Homo sapiens: one gene and its partners. The protein of the gene in region 3 purifies or fractionates together with the protein of the main gene of each other region. This does not show direct contact. Each region holds a gene or a part of one and is shown on either strand. Other genes may lie near its edges. The genes, in order: THOC2, MKRN2 and ZC3H11A.

Region 1 (7,613 bases), on a different chromosome or scaffold from region 3:
GCACTCCAGCATGGGTAACAAGAGCGAAACTCTTTAAAAAAAAAAAAAAAACAAAAACCCAAACAAAAACAAACCAAAAACAACAGCAAAAAAACCTGTTATTAGAACTTACGTGTATGTAGTTATTGCATGACTTGTGGAATGTGGATTGAATTATAGTAGATCCAAATCAGTATAGTCAGTTTTATGATTGCATTCTGTTACAGGAAGAGAATTTAAAATTGTGTAACATAATAAGCTATTTTAAATAGTTAAACACATCACCATCCAGTACTTAGTTTCAGTTTATTTGACCTGTTTTCCCTCTATGAAACTTTGTTGCATATAGCATGTCTTTGGAGTTTTTGTGTCTTCCTAAAGATAGGTGTTAGCATTTTCATATTACTAGGCAGAATACGTGGTGGTGCAAATATATTACAAAAAACCTTTTTCCTTTGTCTGAAAACAGCTTCTGAAATATAAAACAGCAACTGGAAATGTTAAAAATGAAGGTAGTGTGCCACCACATTATTAGTGAAGCTATAGATTTGGCGTTTAGAATATGACCAATATTTAAAATTATACCTTGGGTGAATTTTTCCTTTTTAACAAGATAAATTAGCAGATAAGCTTTAACTTGACTGAAAATTATCTTTTTAAAAATAATGTGATATATTTCATGAGGTTGTTAATTCATTTCTTGTCTGTCACTTCTTACCAGCATAAATCTTTTCTGGGGGTGGTAGTCAGCTAGTGTTGAAAGCAACATAAGAGATGTATGGGGCATTTTATAACTTTCAGATAGGGCAAATTCTTAACTGTACGCCATGAAAAACAACTGTCTATTAAATGGAAGGTCTTGACTTTGAAGAATGTTTTATTAGGTAATTAGAGAGAAAAGTAAAACTGTATTTTGCCTATCTGAATGGTCCATCCATCACATATCTAGATATCCCATTATGTTTCCAGAGATACCAATTATGTTTTTAATGCTAAATTATAGAACTCTTAAAGAGTGACCTTTAAAGTGATCTTAAAGAGGGATCAGAAGGGCAAAGGAGGACTACCAAAATGTAATTGTAATTTCCAATAATACTTATATCTAAATGCAAACTCTTCCAAATTCTGAAAGATATGTATTTAATCACTTAATTTTGGAATTAGTTTTAGTTTCTTGATTATTTTATATTGACGTAGAACTTGCCATGATGAAGCTAATAAACTTGCATGTACTGGTAGATCCAGTGTAGAATTCTGTTTTTGGTAGAAATCATTAACACAGTGAACTCAGCATTTCTTTGTTACAGGCAACCTTAATGGAGAATTGATATTCGAAGCTCTTAATCTGAAGATGCTAGCCTCATGTTAATACTTAGTCTAATTTTGAAATACTTACGTTTGTTGAATATCATCTGTTTGTTTGAATAGCTTATTTAGGTATCAATTAGAAAGTTTTGTTAGGTCTTACCTTATTAATGGTAGTTACAATAAAGTTTTAAAATTTAATTGCCAAATGTTTTGATTGTTGTTCTTTTTCTTCTTCTGCTACTACATGATTTTAGACATTCTAGAACTTATTTAAGTATATTTGGTTGTTCAGAACATGCCATCTGATCTGAATTTCTTGGAGGATTCCAGGTAAAGGGATATAATCATTCTAAGAAATTTTAGTCTTGGTGGTTGAGTCTTTTTTCCTCGCAAAGTTGCTCCAAATTCAGCCAAAGCTTTATCTGAAACCTTTTCTTGATGTCTCAGTTTTCATTTAGCATTTAATTTCCCATTTCGACCTGTATTCATAAGCTAAGTATAAGTCTTAGTCTGTTTTCCTGGGAAGAGAAACATTCTTCACAAAATGTTGAAGCAATGTCAGGAGGTTGTATAGGCTACTACTTTGTTTGTTAAAAAAAATTATTCTGTAATGCTCTAACGTTTAGGTAGGGTGAGTGCTGTCAATATACTTGTGCTTTTTTCCTACTGTAAGTGCGGCAACTCCTGTTGTCTTTTTTTTTTTTAACATTTCCTGTTTCCTTTTCTTTTAAATGCATGTTTCTACAAGATAAAACTGTGTTGTCCCAGTATTCATTTTTGTGGGTTATGTTTCTGTTCTACAAATGATAATAGAGGTAGCACTTTATTTAACTACATTTAACCTTTTTGTTGTCTTGTTTTAAAGAATTAAGTGAAGCGTAAATGAACATCAGCCTTCTATATATGAAAGCCACATTTGAGATGTGAGCATAATCAAGTAGTTTAAGCTTGTGACTCTGTTTCCTTTTTACTGGAAAATGGGAACAAGTAAGATGAAAAGCCGTATACTCATGTTAAGAAGTATTCACAAAATACCTTTTAAGTCCTTGAAGGAACTTCAGACATTTTATTCAGTTTTCCATACATCTTTTGACAGAAAGTAGATTCTGTCCTCATTCTCAGGGACCTGAGACAGCATCTCCATAATAGCACTAAACTATTTTAAAAGTAGAAAAAATGAATGCCTGGCGTGGTGGCATGTAAGGTGGTGTGCACTGTGGCACACACCTGTAATCCCAGCTACTTGGGCAACTGAGGCAGGAGGAAGGATTGCCTGAGCCCAGGAGAGCTCTGGGCGACATAGCGAGAACCTATCTCTATTTTTATTTTTAAAAAATTAAATTAAAAAGTGGAAAAATGGTAAACTCAAGTATTTGAAAGTTATTAAGGGATTAAAATAATTTCAATTTGGACTGAGACAGAAAATTTGATTATTTTTAAGCGATATTAAAGTGGGCAACTATTAGAGGTAGTTTTGTTTTTTCCTCTCCCTATAATTTAGGTTAGTGACCTAAAACCATTAGGCAGGTGTATAGTAAGACAAATGTAATGTTCAGAAACAGTTTCTTTAAGAATCCTTGGTGGACTTCTATTAGTGAATTACTTAGGGAGAAGAGCACAGATACATCTACTTGTTGGGGAAAAATCTCAGTGTTTGTTTTTAGTTTCTTGTTATAACTAAGGAATACCTGTTTTTTTTTTATTAAAAAATTTATTTTTAACTAAGTTTTTTTTGAGACAGGGTCTTGCTTTGTCACCTAGGCTGGAGTGCAGGCGATCACGGCTCACTGCAGGCTTGACCCCACCAGGCTCAAGGGATTTTCCTGCCTCAGCCTCCTGAATTGCTAGGGCTACAGGTGCATGCCACCATGCCTGGCTAATTAAAAACATTTTTTTGTGCGGGTGTATGAGTAGGGATGGGGTTTTGCTATATTGCCCAGGCTGGTCATAAACTCCTGGCTTCAAGTGATCCTCCCCCCTCAGCCTCCCAAAGTGCTGGGATTACAGGCATGAGCCACTACGCCCAGCCAAAGGAATACCTCTTTTATACTAGGGAAATGTAAGTATCTATTATGCAAACAAATTGCCTTATTGTAATAACCTTTCAATGGTTCCATATGCAACTTGAGCAAATCTTTGAGATTCTAACTAATAGTTCATGATGACATTGTCATCTGTGTCCTAATGAACATGTTTGTAGCCTGGTGACTGACAATATAGAATTATATTTCAATTATTTCTTAAAGTTATGTAATGATGACTGTACCATTAGTCTAGGTAGGAGTTTGCAACACTGATGCAACCTCTTCCCCGCAACCATTGGAAGGCTTTTTGCAAAAGACATGCATTAAGATTGTTAAATAGAAATGAAACTATTGAAAATGTGAGGAAGCAAGTGCATTGTTATAAGGAGAAGTTTTTTTTTTTTTTTTTTGAGACAGGGTCTCACTCTGTTGCCCAGGCTGGAGTGCAGTGGCACGATCTTGGCTCACTGCAGCCTTGACCTCCTGGGCTCAAGTGAATAAGGAGGAATTTTAAACAATTATTTTATTTCTCTTTCTTTCTCATCCTTTCCTTTTCCTTTCCTCTTTTTCTTTTTTCTCTTTTTCTATATGAAGGAATATTTGAAATTGCATTTTAGTAGCCCGAGTACAAAGGGAAAGATGAGTTACTTTATTCTGTTAAATTCTTCTTTCAAAGACATGGTGCTTCCTGCTATTATTATTATTATTTTTTTTGAGACAGAGTCTCACTCTGTCGCCCAGGCTGGAGTGCAGTGGTGCGATCTCGACCCACTACAACCTCCGCTTCCTGGGTTCAGGTGATTCTCCTGCCTCAGCTTCCTGAGTAGCTGGGATTACAGGCATTGGCCACCAAGCCCGGCTAATTTTTGTAGTTTTAGTAGAGACGGGGTTTCACCATATTGGCTAGGCTAGTCTCAAACTCTTGACCTCAAGTAATCTGCCCTCCTCGGCCTCTTAAAAGTGCTGGGATTATAGGTGTGAGCCACGGTGCCTGGCCCCTGCTATTATATTCTAAAGAGAATTGACCCTATAAGGGAAATGAGAACCCAAAGAGGGAATTGTTTTAATACTTCATAGTAAATATTGAAGCAACCTTGATATACTTATATATCTCCTCTCCACAAAAGACCTAGATGGCATTTTTAGGTTATATCTTCTGATGCTAGTCTGAAGCAGATGTTATTTCTGTGTTGCCTGGTGGAAGGAAGATTGATTTTGTTTTATATTCCAGATAAACTTATGTTAGGTTTAACGTATTTTGTGAAATTAGAAGCTTAATCGTGGTTTTTTTTTTTTTTTTTTTTTTGAGATAGGGTCTCACTCTGTTCCCCAGGCTGCCCAGGCTGGAGTGCAGTGGTACTACGATCACCACTCACTGCAGCCTCGACCTGCAGGCTCAAGTGATCCTCCCAGCTCAACCTCCCAAGTAGCTGGGATTATAGGCATGTGCCACCACACTTGGCTACTTTTTTTTTCTATTTTTTTTTTTTTTTTGTAGAGATGGGGTCTCACTTGTTGGCTAGGCTGGCTAGGCTGGTCTTGTACTCCTGTGCTCAAGTGATCCTCCCACTTCGGCCTCCCAAAGTGTTGGGATTACAGGCATGAGCCAGCATATCCAACTTTAACCAGTGTTCTTAACCAACCACTGTTCTCTTCTCAACCCATTAGAAGGCCTGTCTAGTTCTCCAGGGAAGTAGTTGAAAGTACTTGGGATCAAACTTAAACCAGCTTACCATTTGTAAGGTACTCTCAGAATAATTTTTTTAGTGAGAAATGTTTAATAGCTAAATGACATTTTCTTTCTTTGTTTTTGTTTTTGAGATGGGATCTTGCTCTGTCACCCTGGAGTGCAGGCTGGAGTGCAGTGGTGCGATCATGGCTCACTGGTGTGATCTTGGCTCACTGCAGTCTCAACTTCCTGGGCTCTGGCGATCCTCCCACCTCAGCCTCCTGAGTAGCTGGGCCCACAGGCGCGTGCTACCATGCTCTGCTAATTGTTTGTGTTTTTGGTAGAGACAGGGTTTCACCACGTTACGAGGCTGGTCTTGAACTCCTGAGCTCAGGTGATATTACCAGGCTGGTCTCGAACTCCTGAGCTCAAGTGATTCACCCACCTTGGCCTCCCAAAGTGCTGGGATTACAGACGTGAGCTACTATGCCTGGCCTGACATTTTCAAACTAAATATTTAATTTAGTAGATGCTCTCCATTGCCCTTATTTTTTATTTTTATTTTTTCTGAGACAGAGTCTCGCTCTGTTGCCCAGGTTGGAGTGCGGTGATGCAGTCTTGGCTCACTGCAACCTCTGCCTCCTGGGTTCATGCGATTCTCCTGCCTCAGCCTGTAGAGTAGCTGGGATTACAGGTGCGCACCACTGCGTCCAGCTAATTTTTGTATTTTTAGTGGAGACGAGGTTTCATCATGTTGGCCAGGCTGGTCTCAAACTCTTGACCTCAACTGATCCACCCACCTTAGCCTCCCAGAGTTCTGGGACTACAGGTGTGAGCTACAGTGCCCGGCTTCCATTGCCTTTTTATTTTTTGGTTTTGAACATATTTGTGAAACCTAGAAGTGAATTGTTGACCAGCAAAAGTTTACTCTGTTGACTTTTAATAACCTTACCCTGCTCATCCTGATGATAGGGTATTGACATAATCAGAAGGCACAGAGGTGAGCTGCAAGGTTATGTATAATCTGCAAAGTAGATAATCTCTCTGTGGATGATTGTAATCTGGCATCTTATTTAGCCTTAGATGTGATATATAAGCAGGTTCTGTAAGTCTTAAAATTATTTGTTTCATTGACTAGAAAAAGGATTACTAGATATAAAAGAGTAAGAAACTCTTCTATATGAATTCATTGGCTCTCTTTAAAGCCTTGTGCAACATGGAAGAATTTTTTTCTAAATTGTGAAATGTAATGAAAATACAGAGAAGTCATGAAACCTCAATATAGAGCTTAAAATAATCACTGTAAGATGCACCCCCATGTAACTTACACCCAGGTCAAGGCAACATACTGTTTGTTCCCGATCAAACCTTTCCCACCTCTCATGTAGTAAACATTATCCTGACATTTATGGTTTTCCTCTTGATTTTTCTCTTTTTTTAACCTTGCATCTTCAACTCAAAGAAACTTTCTTGATTTTCTTTGCAGTGTCATTACCCAATATGTTTAATTTTTTTCTTGAACTTCATATAAATGAAATCATTGAATATTTATCCTACTGTTTCTGGCTGCTTTTGTTCAACAGTTATGACTTTTAAGATTCATCCATATTGTATGTTTGCAGTTCATTGATTTTCCTTTTTTTTTTAGTTCATTCATTTTCATAGTTGCAAGATACTCCATCGTATACCAGTATTTGTTTATTTTTATGCTGTCTTGTTAAACATTTTTGTTGCGTCTAGTTTTTGGCTATTACTAACAGTGCCAATAGAAACATTATTATACAACAGTTTTGGTGTATACAAGCATGTGTTTTTGTGGAGTATATACTAGGTGTAGAATCTCTGGGTTATAGGTTACACTTTAGCTCTGTTAGATATTGCCAGGCTATTTCAGTGTACACTCCCACCAGCAGTGTATGAGTTGACCTTGTTTCACATTGTCACTATGTTTGATATTGTCAGACTTAAATTTTTTGTAAATATGTATGTAATTTTACTGTGGCTTATATTTCCATGAGCATCTTTTTATATGTTATTGGTCATTTGGAGTACTTCTTTTTTTTTGTTTGTTTGAGACAGAGTCTTGCTCTGTCGCCTAGTTTGGAGTGCGGTGGTGGCGTGATCTTGGCTCACTGCAACCTCTGCCTCCCGAGTTCAAGCGATTCTTGTGCCTCAGCCTCCTGAGTAGCTGGGATTACAGGTGTGTGCCACCACACCTGGCTAATTTTTGTGTTTTTAGTAGAGACAGGGTTTCACCATGTTGGGCAGGCTGGTCTTGAACTCCGGACCTCCGATGATCCGCCCGCCTTGGCCTCCCAAAGTGCTGGGATTACAGACGTGAGCCACCACGCCTGTACTGGAGTTCTTATTTCTTTTTGTGAAAGGTCTCTGTCATATCTTTTGCCTTTTTTGTTATTGAGTTGCTTGAGTTTCTTTCACTGATTTGTAGGGGTTCTTTATATAGTCTGTATTTGAGCCCTTTTTGGGTTACACTGCATGTGTTACAACTGTCATTTTTTTTTAATTTTAAGTTCTGGGATACATGTGCAGAATGTGCAGGTTTGTTACATAGGCATACATTTGCCATGGTGGTTTGCTGCACCTATCAACCTGTCATCTAAGTTTTAAGCCCC
Region 2 (7,613 bases), on a different chromosome or scaffold from region 3:
GGTACCCCACCAAGCCAACTCTCCCCTTCCTCCTGGCCGCAGTGCTGTCAAGGTGGCTACAGGGAAAGCAGAGGGTTTTAGCAACTGCCTAAAGCCATAGGTCTCCTTCCAGTTTTCCTGTCTCCAACCTCGGCACCAGGGAGGGCTTCTTCACGCCTTATGTGCTTTGGACCCCTTCTCTGAACAGTGTTTTTCAATGCATAAAACATGGGTCTACAGCATACAGTGACCAAACAGTTCAAAATGTTTTCCCTCTCTCTTAATTCTACCATTCTCCCCACAGACCTCTATGTTAAGAACCCTGCCCAAGGAAACTCAATCAAATGAATTCCCATTTTGCTCAAATGAACTCTGGTTTATCCAATCATAAAGGATCCCAAACTGAAGTTAAAAAAAAAAAGATACCCAAGAATCCAGAGGGCCATCTCGGAGTACAGAGGAAGGGGAAAGTCACAGAAATAAAGCCAAACAACAGAAAGGGCACGCTGCTGTCAGGGGCAGCTGGGGTGTGTGACAGCGGGAGACAAGAACAGGGAAAGGAGGCTCCTGAATCCAGTGGTTTTCCGTCTTGTCAGATGGGATGGCCGCAGGCCGGTGGTGAAGTTCTCTGAGGACGGCTTCATAGCAGCATAAAGAAAAGCCCTCTGGCCGGGTGTGGTGGCTCACACCTGTAATTCCAGCATTTTGGGAGGCCAAGGTGGGTGGATCACTTGAGGTCAGGAGTTTGAGACCAGCCTGGCCAACACAGCGAAACCCCATCTCTACTAAAAATACACAAATGAGCTGGGTGTGGTGGCTGGCACCTGTAATCCCAGCTACTCGGGAGGCTGAGGCTGAGGCAGGAGAATTGCTTGAACCCAGGAGGTGGAGGCTGCAGTGAGCCAAGATTGTGCCACTGCACTCCAGCCTGGGAGACAGAGTGAGACTTCGTCTCACTGGGGGTGGTGGCGGGGGGGTAGGGTGGGGGGAGAGAGAACAAGCTCCCTGGCCAGCTGATCTGATTTGAGCACAGGTGGCTGGAGAGCAGGTGTGTGGACGACACATCCTCCAGGCCCCTGCTTGCCTGGAGTTCTGAGCGGACTTCAAATGACCGTGAGCAGTTTGCTCTCACCAGAGCCTGCTGGACAACTCCAGAGCATCCTAGCACACTGGCTATGAACTCGATCAGGTCAAACACATTATATACTGGTCCCCCACTCTCACAAGAATATTACTCTTTTTCCTCCCCCAGGCTTATCTGGTCACCAAGGCCAAAAGCCTCCAGTTCACTCTGACTCACTCTGTGTCCTCGGCTCTCACACCCAACTGTGTTCATTCTGTTTACAAATCACTTCCCAATCTCCCCTTCCTTTGGGTTCCCACACTTGTGGAAGCCTCTGGGGCCTGCCTGCCAGGGCCACTTCCTCACTGGCCTCCCTCCCACTCCCACCAGTTTCCACCTTCAGAGCAGCACGGAGGAGCTTCCCAACCTTTTTTTTTTCTTTAAAGAGATGAGGTCTCCCTATGTCTCCCCTGGACTTAAGCAATCTGCCCTCCTCAGCCTCCCAAAGTGCTGGGATTACAGGCATAAGCCACTGCGCCTGGCCCCAACCTGTTCTTAAAGACCATGGTCACACTGGGATTCAAGTGTCCCTTAGATTCCAGTCTGTAGGTCCCACCACATCCTTCTACACACCTGTTTCAATGCCAGGAGCCACTCCCAGTGTCCCCCAGACACAAAACCTACACCCTTCTGTGCCCATGTCCTTCCATCACTTCCCCCTACAGACAGGTGCTTCCTGCTTCATGGTTCAGGCTCCCATGCTGCTTCCCCTGGCAGCCCCCGGTGGATCCAAGTGCTTTCTCTGTTGTGATAGATGGTCCCTCATGAAGAACTGGTCACCAGCAAACCTGTATCATAATTGCCCTTTTGCAGTTTCCCATGAAGTTGTCTTACTTGGCGGGGCACAGTGGCTCACACCTATAATCCTAGCACTTTGGGAAGCTGAGGTGGGTAGATCATCTGAGGCCAGGAGTTCAAGACCAGCCTGGCCAACATGGCGAAACCCCATCCCTACTAAAAAAATACAAAAATTAGCTGGGTGTCGTGGCGCACACCTGTAATCCCAGCTACTCGGGAGGCTGAGGCAGAAGAATCACTTGAACCCTGGAGGCGGAGGTTGCAGTGAGCTGAAATCATGCCACTGCCAGCCTGGGTGACAGAGCGAGACTCGAAAGAAAAAAGAAATTGTCTTACTAATCTCTACATCCCCCAGTGGTGCTTAGCTAGAAGGTACCTGACCCATAGTGAGTACTCAGTAAATGTTTGTGGATTGCAAAAAACACAGTCATTAAAGGAAAGCAAAGCAAGGAAAGATCCAAATAGCAATAACAATCTCCAGACTGCTTTTCAGCAGAGCCCCTTTCTACAGGCTGGGACCCTTTTCTACAGGCTGGGGCCCTTTTCTACAAGCTGGGACCCCTCTGCTTGCCACGCCTTGCCCTCTTGTGGACACACAGGAAGATTGTATGAGGAAAAAATGGTAAAAAAAAAAAAAAAAAAAAAATCAAGCTTTAGTAAACTAATATGCAACATAAAGGAACCATTAAAAAAGGTAATGCATAGTTTCACTTTTAGTATGACAAGTAAACGCCTGCCATACCCAACCCTCCTGCAGATAAGTCTTAACACAAATATTTCAAGAAGACCTGAAGGCACCAGAGAATGAACAAACGCAGTTAGATTCTTTGGAGGAGTAAACACAAAGAAGAATAGCAATGGCAAAGGCTAAGTTACCTTTTTTAAAAAAGGTAGCTTTTGTGGCTCACATCTGTAATCCCAGCATTTTGGGAGGCCGAGGCAGGTGGATTGCCTGAGCTCAGGAGTTCAAGACCAGCCTGGGAAACACAGTGAAACCCTGTCTCTACTAAAATACAAAAATTAGCCAGGCGTGGCGGCATGCGCCTGTAGTCCCACCTTCTTGGGAGGCTGAGGCAGAAGTGCTTGAACCTGGAAGGCGGAGGTGGCAGTGAGCTGAGACTGTGCCACTGCACTCCAGCCTGGGCTACAAAGCAAGACTCCATCTCCAAAAAAAAAAAAAAAAAAAAAAAAAGAAGTAGCTCTTATCCTGGAGCAGGCCAAAATCATAACCACATGGGGTGGCTAAAACTCCAAGGGGAAATCCAATCTTTCTGGCCTGAAGAACTAAAAGACAAGAGTTCAAGGAAATCACAGCCATTGGAAAGTGAGGAAGCAATCCCACAAAGTAAGGGGCCTGTGAAAAAGTGCTCAAAGGCTGTGTATAAACTCTGCCCAAATCTGACTAACTCCCAAACCACACAGGAATGCGACAAAGTCAGCTACGAATGCAAAACCAGAACTGAGATCTGAACTGCTACCTGGGTTTGAGTTCAAACAATTTACCTGCCTGTTAAAAACAGCAACACTTGGCCAGGCGCAGTGGCTCATGCCTGTAATCCCAGCACTTTGGGAGGCCGAGGTGGGCGGATCACCTGAGGTCAGGAGTTTGAGACCAGCCAGGCTAACATGGTGAAACCCCGTTTCTACTAAAAATACAAAAAATTGGCCAGGTGCAGTGGTGCATGCCTGTAATCCCTGCTACTCGGGAGGCTGAGGCAGGAGAATCGCTTGAACCCGAGAGGCAGAGGTTGCAGTGAGCCGAGATTGTGCCACTGCACTCCAGCCTGGGCAACAAGAGTGAAACTCCGTCTCAAAAAAAAAAAAATCATCACTTTACAGATAAACCATAACAGAATCCTAAGTCTCTCTACAATGTAATATTTACAATGTCAAGGATAAAATCTAAAATTACTAGACATACGAAGAATCAGGAAAATGTGATCCATTCTTAAAAGACAACAGAGGTCAACTTCAAGATAACAAGGATTTCAAAGTAGCTGCTACAACTATGTTCAAGGAGATGAAAAGAAAAAAAGATTGAAAAAGAATGAATATCCCCAGAGATCTATGAACAATATAAAAAAACTATCATAAACGGAAGTAGAGTCCCAGCAGGAAAAGAAAAAAACAAGACAGAAAAAAAGTTAATGAAACAATAGCTAAAATTTCGCTCATCTTGGGGAGTGACATAAGCGTAGAGAAAAACCACTCCACTCCTAGGCAAAATATCAACATGCTGACAACCAGGATAAAGAGGAACATTTGAGGCCGGGCACGGTGGCTCATGCCTGTAATCCCAGCACTTTGGGAGGCCGAGGCAGGAGGATCACTTGAGCCTAGGAGTTCAAGACCAGCCTGGGCTACATGGCGAAACCTTGTCTCTACCAAAAAAAATTAGCCAATTAGCTGGGCATGGTGGCGCACACTACTGGTGGCCCCAGCTACTCAAGAGGCTCCTGCTTGAGCCCAGGAGGCTGAGGCTGCAGTGAGCTGAGATTGCACCACTGCACTCCAGCCTGGGCAACAGAGTGAGACCCTATCTCACCGAAAAAAAAAAAAAAAAAAAAAAAACACCAAAACTAAACAGGTCCACATCACCATGTCCTTGCTCATTGCTGCATCCCAGAGCCCAGCATGGTGCCTGAGAGAAGGAAGAGAGGAAGAGGCCCCTAAGACCACACTCCTGGGAAGGAGAACGAGGACACGGGCTGACAGCAGAGCCAGGCAGGCAGCAGGGGCACGTCGAAACTCAAAAGCACTTACCCCATCCCCTGTTTGAAAGCTTCAATCAACTCGTTCTTTTTATTCTGATCTTCCACCCAATACACACTTGGAATTACAAACTCTGATATCACACGGCATTCTGGACAAGACCTGAAATAAGAATTAGATTACTAAGGGAGAAGTCATGTTACGAAGCCTGGGCACACTCTCTGCTAAACCTCTTGCTCAACTGCCTCACCACTACAGGCATTTCCTTCACCAGAAATTCCAAAAGATGAAATCACAATCATCCAAGAACCTTATTTACTATTAACAAAATAGGGTTTCCCAATGAGAACACATGGACACATGTGGGGGAACATCACACACCGGGGCCTGTCGGTGCAGGGGCAAGGGGAGGGAGAACATCAGCACAAACAGCTAATGCATGCATGGCTGAAAACCTAGGTGATGGGTTGAGAGGTGCAGAAAACCACCGTGGCACATGGATACCCATGTAACAAAGCTACACATTCTGCACATGTACCCCAGAACTTAAAGCAAAAAAAATACACACACACACACACACACACACACACACACACACACACATATATGGTTTCCTCAACAAAAAAGACAGATGAAATAACCCTCATACATTGCTGGTGAGAATGTAAAAGGGTGCAGCCACTTTGAACAGAGTCTGGCAGATTCTCCAACAGTTTAATGTAGAGTTATTATACCATAAAACCTAGCAATCCCACGCCCAGGTGTATACCCAAGAGAAATGAAAACACATGCCCACATGCTGTGTTCACAAATGTTGACAGCAGCATTATTCATAATAGTTGCAAAGTTAAAACAGCCTAAATGTCCACTAGCTGAGGAATGGATAAGGGAAATGTGCTGCGTCCATACAATGGAACATATTCCGCCAGGAGAAGGGGACTCTGGCACATGCTACAGTCGGGATGAACTCTGACAACACTATGCTCAGTGAAAGGGGCCAGGCACAAAAGGCCCCAAATTCTATGATTCCATTTATAAGAAGTGTCCAGAATAGGCAACTCTGTAGAGACAGAAAGCGGATGAGTGGTGAGTTAAATTGTGGGCTTTTATCTCAATAGAGCAGTTGTTTCACCACACGATTTTAGGCAAATTACTTGACCCCCGCACCCCAGGCCTGTTTCCTAATCTGTAACTGAGGAGGGTCTTTGAGGGAATGAGATGAGCGGACAGATGTGGAGTTCTGAACAGTAGAACGCGTGCAGTAACCTCTCCACATGCCAGCTCTTCCCCTGTCCTGCTGGAGAATTTGAGACTCCTATGTTGGCCACATTGAGCACATCCCATGTGCCAGGCATCATGCAGAATGTTTTACATGCATTATTCCACTTCATCCTCAAATAACCCTATTTTCGTTTTTGGTGGGGGGAAAAAACGAAGCTCAAAATGATTAACAGGCAACTGGGCTACAGGCAGGTACTACTGGATTTCAAACACAAGGCTAGGAGATGAAAACAGGTCAGTGCCATTTAACACCTTTTTACACAGATCATCTTTGCTGAGTTCCTCCCCAACACCCAGAAAGCTTGGTAGGAATTGTTGCCCATCTTTTATAGGAACAGGCACTTAGGCTCAGGAAGAGTAAATGACTTGCTGAAGTTCATGCAGCCAGGGGCCAGAACTCACCAGTTACTCTTGAGGGTAACGGAGGGCTTAAAAGTGGACGGAATAAAGTCTCAAATCAAACATTCTCCTAGCTCCCACAGCTAAGACCCCTGGCTGTACTTACTTAATGATTGGGTTTTCAAACTGTTTGGCACACCGCCACTGCCGGATGCAGGACAAACAGTACGTGTGATTGCAATTGGAGAGAATCCCAAATCTCCTCTCAGAAGCAGAGGCCTTCTCCAGGATCACTTCCATGCAGATACTGCACACTTTGTCCTGGCTTGCCTGGAAGGCAAAGGCCTTTTCCATCTCGTGTTCGAACGTCAACATGCAGATCTGAAGCACAGACAGGAAGGAAGGCTTTGGTTGTGGGCCACTGAGGAGTGGCAGGAGCCCTAGGAGTAGCTGCAGCCACACTGCCACAGCTGAGATCAGGAAGGAACACTGACAGCGACTGCTGTGAGCAAAGGCCCAGGCTCCCCCAAGTCAGGACACTGACATCTCCCTCAGACCACACAAAGGACTTCAAACCATCACTGGTCCAGCCCCTTGCTTTCCTAGGAGGTGACATGGTCACCACCCATTTAGGACTGAGAACACGGAGATCCAAAAAGGTTAAACTGCAGTGGAGTCAGAGTCCGTAAGGACTGCGGCCCTAGTCCCCCAGCTCCTCTGGGCACTGTTTCCCCCGACTCTGAGCCATGTCTACATCAGAGATGCTGACTCGTCCTTACCATGAGGCTTGAGGCTGGCAGCCTAGTCCTATGTAAGAAGCACCACTTCTCCCCAAGAAAATGATTCAATGAATTCATTCATTCACTAGGCATGCCCTGAATTCCTTCTATGTGCTGGCATTTGAGCAAGAGTGAGAAGACCTAGGCCCAGCCCTTGTAAGCTCAGTCTGTCCAGATCTGAGACAAGCCAACACTCACCGCAGAGACCTCACACACTTGCATAAAGAAGACAGCTCTAACCCTCTGCTTCCCTGGAAGACAATGGAGAGTGTCTCCTTGTCCGCTGCCACATGGAGTCAGTACTAATTTACCTCTTGATTATCTAGGAATACGCTGTCCATTTAAACATGCCTTAGGCCAGGTGCAGTGGCTCACACCTGTAATCCCATTACTCTGGGAGGCCATGGTAAGAGGACTGCTTGATCTCAGGAGTTCAAGACCAGCCTAAGCAACATAGCAAGACCTCACCTCTGAAAAATAAAATAATTTTTTTTTTTTTTTGAGACAGAGTCTCTCTCTGTCGTCCAGGCTGGAGTGCGGTGGTGCAATCTCAGCTCGCTGCAAGCTCCACCTCCTGGGTTCAGACTATTCTCCTGCCTCAG
Region 3 (7,613 bases):
GTCATTGAAGGATACCAAGACCACGGTTGATGCTATGAAACTGGGAGCAAAGGAAATGAAGGTAGACAAGCAAGTGAAAACTGACCAGATTGAGAATTTACAAGACCAGCTAGTGGACATGATGGAAGATGCAAATGAAATCCAAGAAGCACTGAGTCGCAGTTATGGCGGCCCAGAATTAGATGAAGACAACCTAGAAGCAGAGTTGGATACACTGGGTGATGAGCTTGTGGCTGACCAAGAGTTCTATTTAGATGAGCCAGCATCTGCACCTGCAATTCCAGAAGGTGTTCCCACTGTCACAAAAACAAGGATGGAGTTCTGGTGGATGAATTTGGATTGCCACAGATCCCTGCTTCATACATTTGCATTTAAGTACATCATGTAAAACATATTATGGGACTATGAAATACTGATCTTTCCAAATTTACCGTAACAGATACGTTTCTGTCCTTTCTTTGAAGGAAAGTTTAATTACATTGCTCTTCTATTTTTTTCCTTTGAGACTCATTGCTTGGGAAATGCTTTCTTTGTACTAAAACTTGATTCTGGCAGGGCGCGGTGGCTCACACCTGTAATCCCAGCACTTTGAAAGGCTGAGGCAGGCAGATCACAAGGTCAGAAGTTCGAGACCAGCCTGGCCAACATGGTGAAACCCCATCTCTACTAAAAATACAAAAAATTAGCCGGGTGTGGTGGCGGGCGCCTGTAGTCCTACTCTCGGGAGACTGAAGCAGGAGAATTGCTTGAACCCAGGAGGCGGAGGTCCAGTGAGCCAAGATCACCCCACAGCCTGGGCGACAGAGCAAGACTCTGTCTCAAAAAAAAAAAAAAAAATCACTACTGTATCAGAAGTGGGTATTTTGATTCTGTGGTTTCCTTAATACTACATCTTGAAATCAATAATGAATATTTCTTGATATTTGATGAATAGGACATTTATTTACTCAATTTTTTCAAAAGGAAAAAAAGGCATAAATTACAAACATATATTAAAAAGACGAGACAGGCCGGGCACAATAGCTCACGCCTGTAATCCCAGCACTTTAGGAGGCCGAGTTGGGCAGATCACCTGAGGTCAGGAGTTTGAGACCAGCCTGGCCAATATGATGAAACCCCATCTCTACTAAAAATACAAAAATCAGCCGGGCATGGTGGCATGCGCCTGTAATCTCAGCTACTTGGGAGGCTGAGACAGAAGAATCACTTGAACCTGGAAGGCAGAGGTTGCAATGAGCCAAGACAGCACCATTGCACTCCAGCCTAGGCAACGAGAGCAATACTCCATATCAAAAAAAAAAAAAAAGATGAGGCAAAAAAGAAAAAAATCCAGAACCTGCAGATTACATGCTTGCAAACTAGAAAATCTATCAACTAAAACAAATTGAAAATAATAAAAATGTAAGATCTACAAGAAGCAGTAAATTTCCTTCATACCAGCAATAATCATTCAGATGATGGCAGAGTACCACTCACAGTAAAAAGATATACAGGAAGAGACCATTCACAATAAAAAGATATACAGGAAGGGCCGGGCGTGGTGGCTCATGCTTGTAATCCTAGCACTTTGGGAGGCCGAGGCGGGCGGATCACGAGGTCAGGAGATGGAGACCATCCTGTCTAACACGGTGAAACCCCGTCTCTACTAAAAATACAAAAAAGTTAGCCAGGCGAGGTGGCGGGTGCCTGTAGTCCCAGCTACTCGGGAGGCTGAGGCAGGAGAATGGCGTGAACCCGGGAGGCGGAGTTTGCAGTGAATCGAGATCACGCCACTGCACTCCAGCCTGGGCGACAGAGCGAGACTCTGTCTCAAAAAAAAAAAAAAAAACACATATACAGGAAGAAAATGAAGAAGTATGCAAGACCCACATTAAATTAAAAACAAAACCAAAACACTATGAAACTACTAAGGCACAGAAGACCTGGATAATGAATAAATAGAGGATTAAAGAAATTACTTCTCCCCAAAAAATAATGCACACATCGAATGTAATTCAAGTCAAAATCCCAATTAGAGTTTATTACTGGAACTTGATTATAAAATCATCTAGAATCATTATTTAAAAAGGAATGGGAGGCCAGGCATGGTGGCTCACACCTGTAATCCCAACACTGGTTGGCCAAGGCAGGAAGACTGCTTGAACCCAGGAGTTTGAGAACAGCCTGGGCAACACAGAGCAACTCCATCTCTACAAAAGGTTTTAAAAAGTAGCCAGGTACAGTGGGGCACACCTGTAGTTCCAGCTACTCAGGAGGCTTCGGCAATAGGATCTCTTAAGCCCAGGGGTTTGACGTTGCAGTGAGCTATGATCATGCCACTGCACTCCAGCCTCAGTGACAGAGCACAAGACCCTGTTTCAAAACGAAACAAAATAACCCAGTGCTTTTCTCCAAGGAGATGGAATTACAGGAAGATTTCACTTTGGCTATGCTGTTTTTACCTTTTTTACAATGTACATATATTATCAAAACAAAGAAAGAAAAACTATGGGCCAGAGGCGGTGGCTCATGCCTGTAATCCCAGCACTTTGGGAGGCTGAGGCTGGTGGATCACCTGAGGTCAGGAATTCCAGACCAGCCTGGCCAAGATGGTGAAACTTCATCTCCACTAATAATACAAAAATTATCCGGTGTAGTGGTGCACATCTGTAATCCCAGCTACCCAGGAGGCTGAGGCAGGAGAACTGCTTGAACCTGGGAGGAGGAGGTTGCAGTGAGCCAAGATGGCACCATTGCACTCCAGCCTAGGGGACAAGAGTAAAACTCCGTCTCCAAAAAAGAAAAAAAGAAAAGAAAGAAAAAAATATGTTTCCATCCCAAAACTAAAAATTTGTAAACAATTATGTACAAGCAAAAATGTCTGAACAATGGCCTTTTAATTTCTTACTGATCCATGAAAATTATGCCTTAAATGACAAGAATGTTCACTCCTTTCATGCGAAAAATGCCTGCTTCCCCACTTACATTAGCTGGTTGCTCTGAACAGGAACATCTGTGTCTTCACTGAGTTCCAATCTATTACGCCTGTAGGTCGAACCAACACTCAATCCATGAATTAATAATAATGAGGCAGAAAAAAATTTCCTCCTCACATTGCCAAGAAAACCTCTCAGCCACAATTCAAACACAGCATGTGTTTTTAAAACATCTCCCAACTACTGGGAGATTAAGTCCATTCAAATAACCTTTGTCAGACTGGAGACAGCTAGGGTTAGTTATCTCCTCAAAAACAAAACAAAACAAAACAAAAAAAAAACAAAAAAAAAGAGTTCATTTAAAGATGAACTTGAGAGTTAAAGGATCATGAAAAAAAACTCCATCTTCCATAGCTGAACAATATAATTTAAAAAAAAAACAAAAAAACATCAGTTTTTCAGTAAGATCCAATTTCTGGTCTTCAAGATTTCTTCACCTATTAAGAAAAAAACAGAAACCTTCCCCCATCTTTATTATCTGTATAATAAAAGCATACTTGTATGTAAAAATATAGTGTTTTATGTATATAATATACATACAGATATATACTAACTGGCTTATACACACACACATATACACAAAAATGTATAGAAATATAACATTTGGATAAGTTTCCCCTTTTAAAATGCACTATAAAAGACTTTAGATTTGGGTTCATTATAAAAATAAAGAACTTACTCTTATACCAAAGTATCATGAAGTTATTGTTACACTAAATTTTGCCCAGCCCACAAAATAAAGACGAAGGTAAATCCTTACACATATATCATTATGTATAATATGGATGTATGTATATATATCCATCATCGTCATCAGGGAGTGTTTAACCAAAAAAGATAGAAACGTATGGTAATAGAGTAACTACAGAGTGGTGCAGCAAGCTGTAGAAGGCAGAGCAGCATTATAGCCATTCTAAACTGGCACTGTCAAAACACAGAAAGCTTTATCTAAGGGAAAATTTATTTCTTATTTTGTATCAACACCAGTATCACTGGTTTGCCATTAAATAGTGGCCCTGGAAAGGCTTGCTTACGCAGCCTAGGTCCAAATTCTTTACTACTAATGGCTACAGCTAAAGACTTTGTAAGTATACATTTACTCCAGTTAGTAAAAGGGTAAACTTTTGGAGTTGAGATTTCATTTCACAATGGCATATTTACCATTTAAGAATTTAAAAAAAAAAAAAATCAAAACCAAAAAAAACCCGATTTTGATACATAGAAATGAGTTCTAAACTTTGAAACCAGCCCAGTAACAAAGCAATTTTGATTCTTATGTAATAAATACTACATAATTTCTAGGCTAAATCTTGCCAAATACTATCCAAGACAAAACTAAAATCAAAACTTAAAAAAAAGTGGACACCTTTTACTCACACTTAATACTAGTCAATTTTCCAGGAATTTTTTGGGCAGGGAATATCCCCAAATCTAAAATGAAAAAAAGGAAAAATTGGGATCTCACATTAGTTATTCAGTCTGAAACTTTTAATAGACTTTTACTAAAAGTCATCATTTTCTGGCCTCCTACTCAATCTCAGAAACATACTTTCAGAGTAGAAAGGGATCTTAAAATGAGATCAATTCACTCATTTCACCAATGATTCCTAACACATAAAAATACCGACTGCTTAGTTTTCATTAAGAATTCAGTGGCCAAAACAACCGCACAGTTAATACAGTATAATGGGTCATTAAGTATGTTTTTAAAAAGATTACCTAAAATTACAGAAACAATCTTTGGGAAATGTCTACTGGGTTTTTCCAAGCATGTTCAAAGGGCTCTCATTACAATTCCCATTCAACCTTTTCCAATTCTTGCAAACATTTTAGTCTGTTTTTACCCATAAATTATTTGAAAGTACCTACACAATCTATTTTTATAATATTTTATAAAGGTTAAAACAGGCATTTCAAAGACTAAAAGTATATTTTCCTAATTGTTTTCTAATATTTCCCTTTTATATAAGATCCAATTCTAAAGGGTAACACTATCACACTCAACAATTTGAAATTATAAAGCTGACCAGTATGAGGAGGCAATTAGAAATTTCCAAATATAAAACAATTTCACGGGTTTTCTTTTTGCCAAGTTGTAATTAAGCATCAGGGTTTTTAAGGAAACAGAAAAACAGGGGCAGGAGGAATGCCAGCCAGTGTACTTTTTTCTCATTTCGTTGATTTCAGAGCAATAAAATTTCCCATGGTGGGGGAAGTTTTACTTAAAACCAATTACTAGTTCAATCTACCAGGAAGAAAGCCTAAGGCCTTTCAATGCTGCACTATATTTTTTTTAATTAAAAATATCTTCTCTCTCATTGGTATAAGCAAAATTTTCAAGTGCTAGCGCCACAGTTATAGCTATGAAATCTTTAATCTTCATTTTATCAAAATTATATTGCCTCTGAGGAATTTTCAGCCCTTGTGTGATTTCAGGTTTCCCCAGATGTGTTTATAAAGATAATGATTATATTTAACAACTACAGCTATTAAGATACAGTAACACAGCAAAAAGTTGCCCATTTTAAATGGAGAAAAAGAAATTAAGGCAGTATTTCTTTTTCACTGCTTTGAACAACTTCATTCTGCTCAGGATCCCAGCTCAGAACCAACGTAGAATAATCGTAGTTAACATTTTTCAAGTTCATTTTCAGAAACATCAGTTGTTCTATATTGTCAAAGTCCAGGCTCATGATCTGTTTTGGATGAAAGTGGCTATTTTTAGTAAAGATACATTCAGATTGCCAACTACACATGGGGCAACTTAGATACTGGATGGCAACCTGGGTCAAAGCCGGCCATATGCTTATCTTCCTCTGCCAGTAAATTAAAGGGTCATCACCTCCTGAGAACTCTGAATACTTCTCTTTGAAGTACTCATCCACAACTGCTACAGCAGAAGGGAACATGAAGCTTTTGCTTCCAAGGGCAACATTGTCTACAGCTGAGCTATCAACAGAACCTGAACTGGAGGTGCCTTCTTTTAGAGATGAGGTAAATGAATCAGCTCCCACTGTAACTGAGGGACAAGAAGCTTCTGAAGTTGGAATTTGGCAGATCTCTGGTGAAGATTCCATATAATTACAGACCTCTTCTGCAAGGAACTGCTTATAAGTTTCTAAATCAGCACCTTGAGGAAAAAAGTCTTCCAAACTGTTTTTAAAGCAAGGATCTAACAAAGTAGCCAAGATACAGGGCTTGGATTTAAGCATGGCACTTAGTAGGGTATCTGTTTCAAGTTTCAGAGATAAACTATCCACCAGATTGAGGGCCTGAGTAATACCTCTGACTTGAAAATCTTCTCTGAGTTTCTGCAGGGAAAGGAGTAGATGATGGATTAGGGGTAGCACCTGATTCAATCCTGCGGTCTTCACGCTCACTTTCTGGGTAGCCTCCTCAAATGGCTTAAGAATATCACAAACATAAGTCATTAGAGTCCACTGAAGGGAGGTGAGCACAACTCCACTGGCTCTACCAAGACTATGGTGAACTGAGTAGCAATGCTCCAAGAGCCATTTTAACATATAAAAAGTAGAAATCCAATGGCCAGTTTCGTCCTGCTTCAAATTCTTCCATGGAAGTTGGTGATCATTTTGGAACTCTTGCAGTATCTGACGGGCCTTGACCGAATGACTAAAATGATGACAAGTTTTCCTGGCAGCCACTAACATATTCTCAATGCTTTTGTGCTCGCAGAAAAAGTCCTGAATGACCATATTTAAACAATGCAGGAAGCATGGCACATGGGTAAAACCACCATCTTTGATTGCATGTACCACATTAGAGGAATTGTCAGAAACAATGAAGCTAGGGATAAGGAAATTTGGAGAAAGCCACAGACCAATCTGGTCATTTAATTCTTGTAAAATATTGGTTATCAAACAGTCTTTAGCCAAACCTGTAACACAAAGCACTGCCCACTTTCTAAAATCGGGGATCCTGCCATTATTGAGAAAAGACGCAGTTTCCAAAGAAACCCAGTGTACAGTCACAATAAAATAGTCAGTGGATGGGTCATGGGTCCATATGTCAACAGTCAGGTGTATCTTTTGGCTTTGAACATTCTCTAAAGTTAAGAAAATTTTTTCTCTGACACAATCATATAACTGAGGTACAGCCTTAGTGAAAAAGTAAGTCTCTGATGGCAACCTATAATCAGGGGCCACAATCTGCATGAACCTCTGAAAGGCTGGGGTTGAGAAATAGTTGTAAGGATGCATATCCTCCACAATCATTTGGATAATTGCCTGACTTATGTGACTTGAGACTGGATTTCCACAACATGTTGTTTCTCTCTCCTGCGCACGCATCAGAGTGCCTTGCTCTGCAACGGGAATAGGACTTTCAGATCTGTTTTCAACCTCTAACATAGGTTCATCTGAATCAGAGTCACTAAGGTCCTCAGCTGTTAAATCTTGGCTGCCTGTAGACTTTTCTCCATGCAAGGTATCACTCAAGAGATCACTTCTCTCAGTCTCAGCTTCATCTAATCCATTTGCAACAGCACCACTGTCTTTGTTGGCAACAGCCCAATGGATAGGATGTGTGGCTTGCAGGTGTCGTTGAAGTGTTGAAGTCCCTAAGTGGGACCCTGGCCTACCCCGGCTCACACTTCTTTTACATATATTACACACAGCT

Evidence for each region.
Region 1: the proteins of ZC3H11A (region 3) and THOC2 purify together in Homo sapiens (affinity purification with mass spectrometry; 2 studies listed by BioGRID and IntAct, with this or other methods). This does not show direct contact.
Region 2: the proteins of ZC3H11A (region 3) and MKRN2 purify together in Homo sapiens (affinity purification with mass spectrometry; 2 studies listed by BioGRID and IntAct, with this or other methods). This does not show direct contact.

What each region holds. Positions count from the first base shown.
Region 1 is NC_000023.11:123,722,621-123,730,233, reverse strand, and holds part of THOC2 (THO complex subunit 2), read left to right. Parts: intron 1-7,613. UniProt on the Homo sapiens protein: Component of the THO subcomplex of the TREX complex which is thought to couple mRNA transcription, processing and nuclear export, and which specifically associates with spliced mRNA and not with unspliced pre-mRNA.
Region 2 is NC_000003.12:12,573,792-12,581,404, reverse strand, and holds part of MKRN2 (E3 ubiquitin-protein ligase makorin-2), read right to left. Parts: intron 6,614-7,613; coding exon 6,399-6,613; intron 4,775-6,398; coding exon 4,664-4,774; intron 1-4,663. UniProt on the Homo sapiens protein: E3 ubiquitin ligase catalyzing the covalent attachment of ubiquitin moieties onto substrate proteins.
Region 3 is NC_000001.11:203,798,368-203,805,980, reverse strand, and holds part of ZC3H11A (zinc finger CCCH domain-containing protein 11A), read right to left. Parts: coding exon of another isoform or gene 5,519-7,613; exon of another isoform or gene 4,407-5,518; 5' UTR 3,888-4,406; coding exon of another isoform or gene 3,789-3,887; 5' UTR 2,965-3,788; intron 1-2,964. Other genes in the region: uncharacterized LOC128031836, read right to left, coding at 3,789-3,887; ZBED6 (zinc finger BED domain-containing protein 6), read right to left, coding at 5,519-7,613. UniProt on the Homo sapiens protein: Through its association with TREX complex components, may participate in the export and post-transcriptional coordination of selected mRNA transcripts, including those required to maintain the metabolic processes in embryonic cells.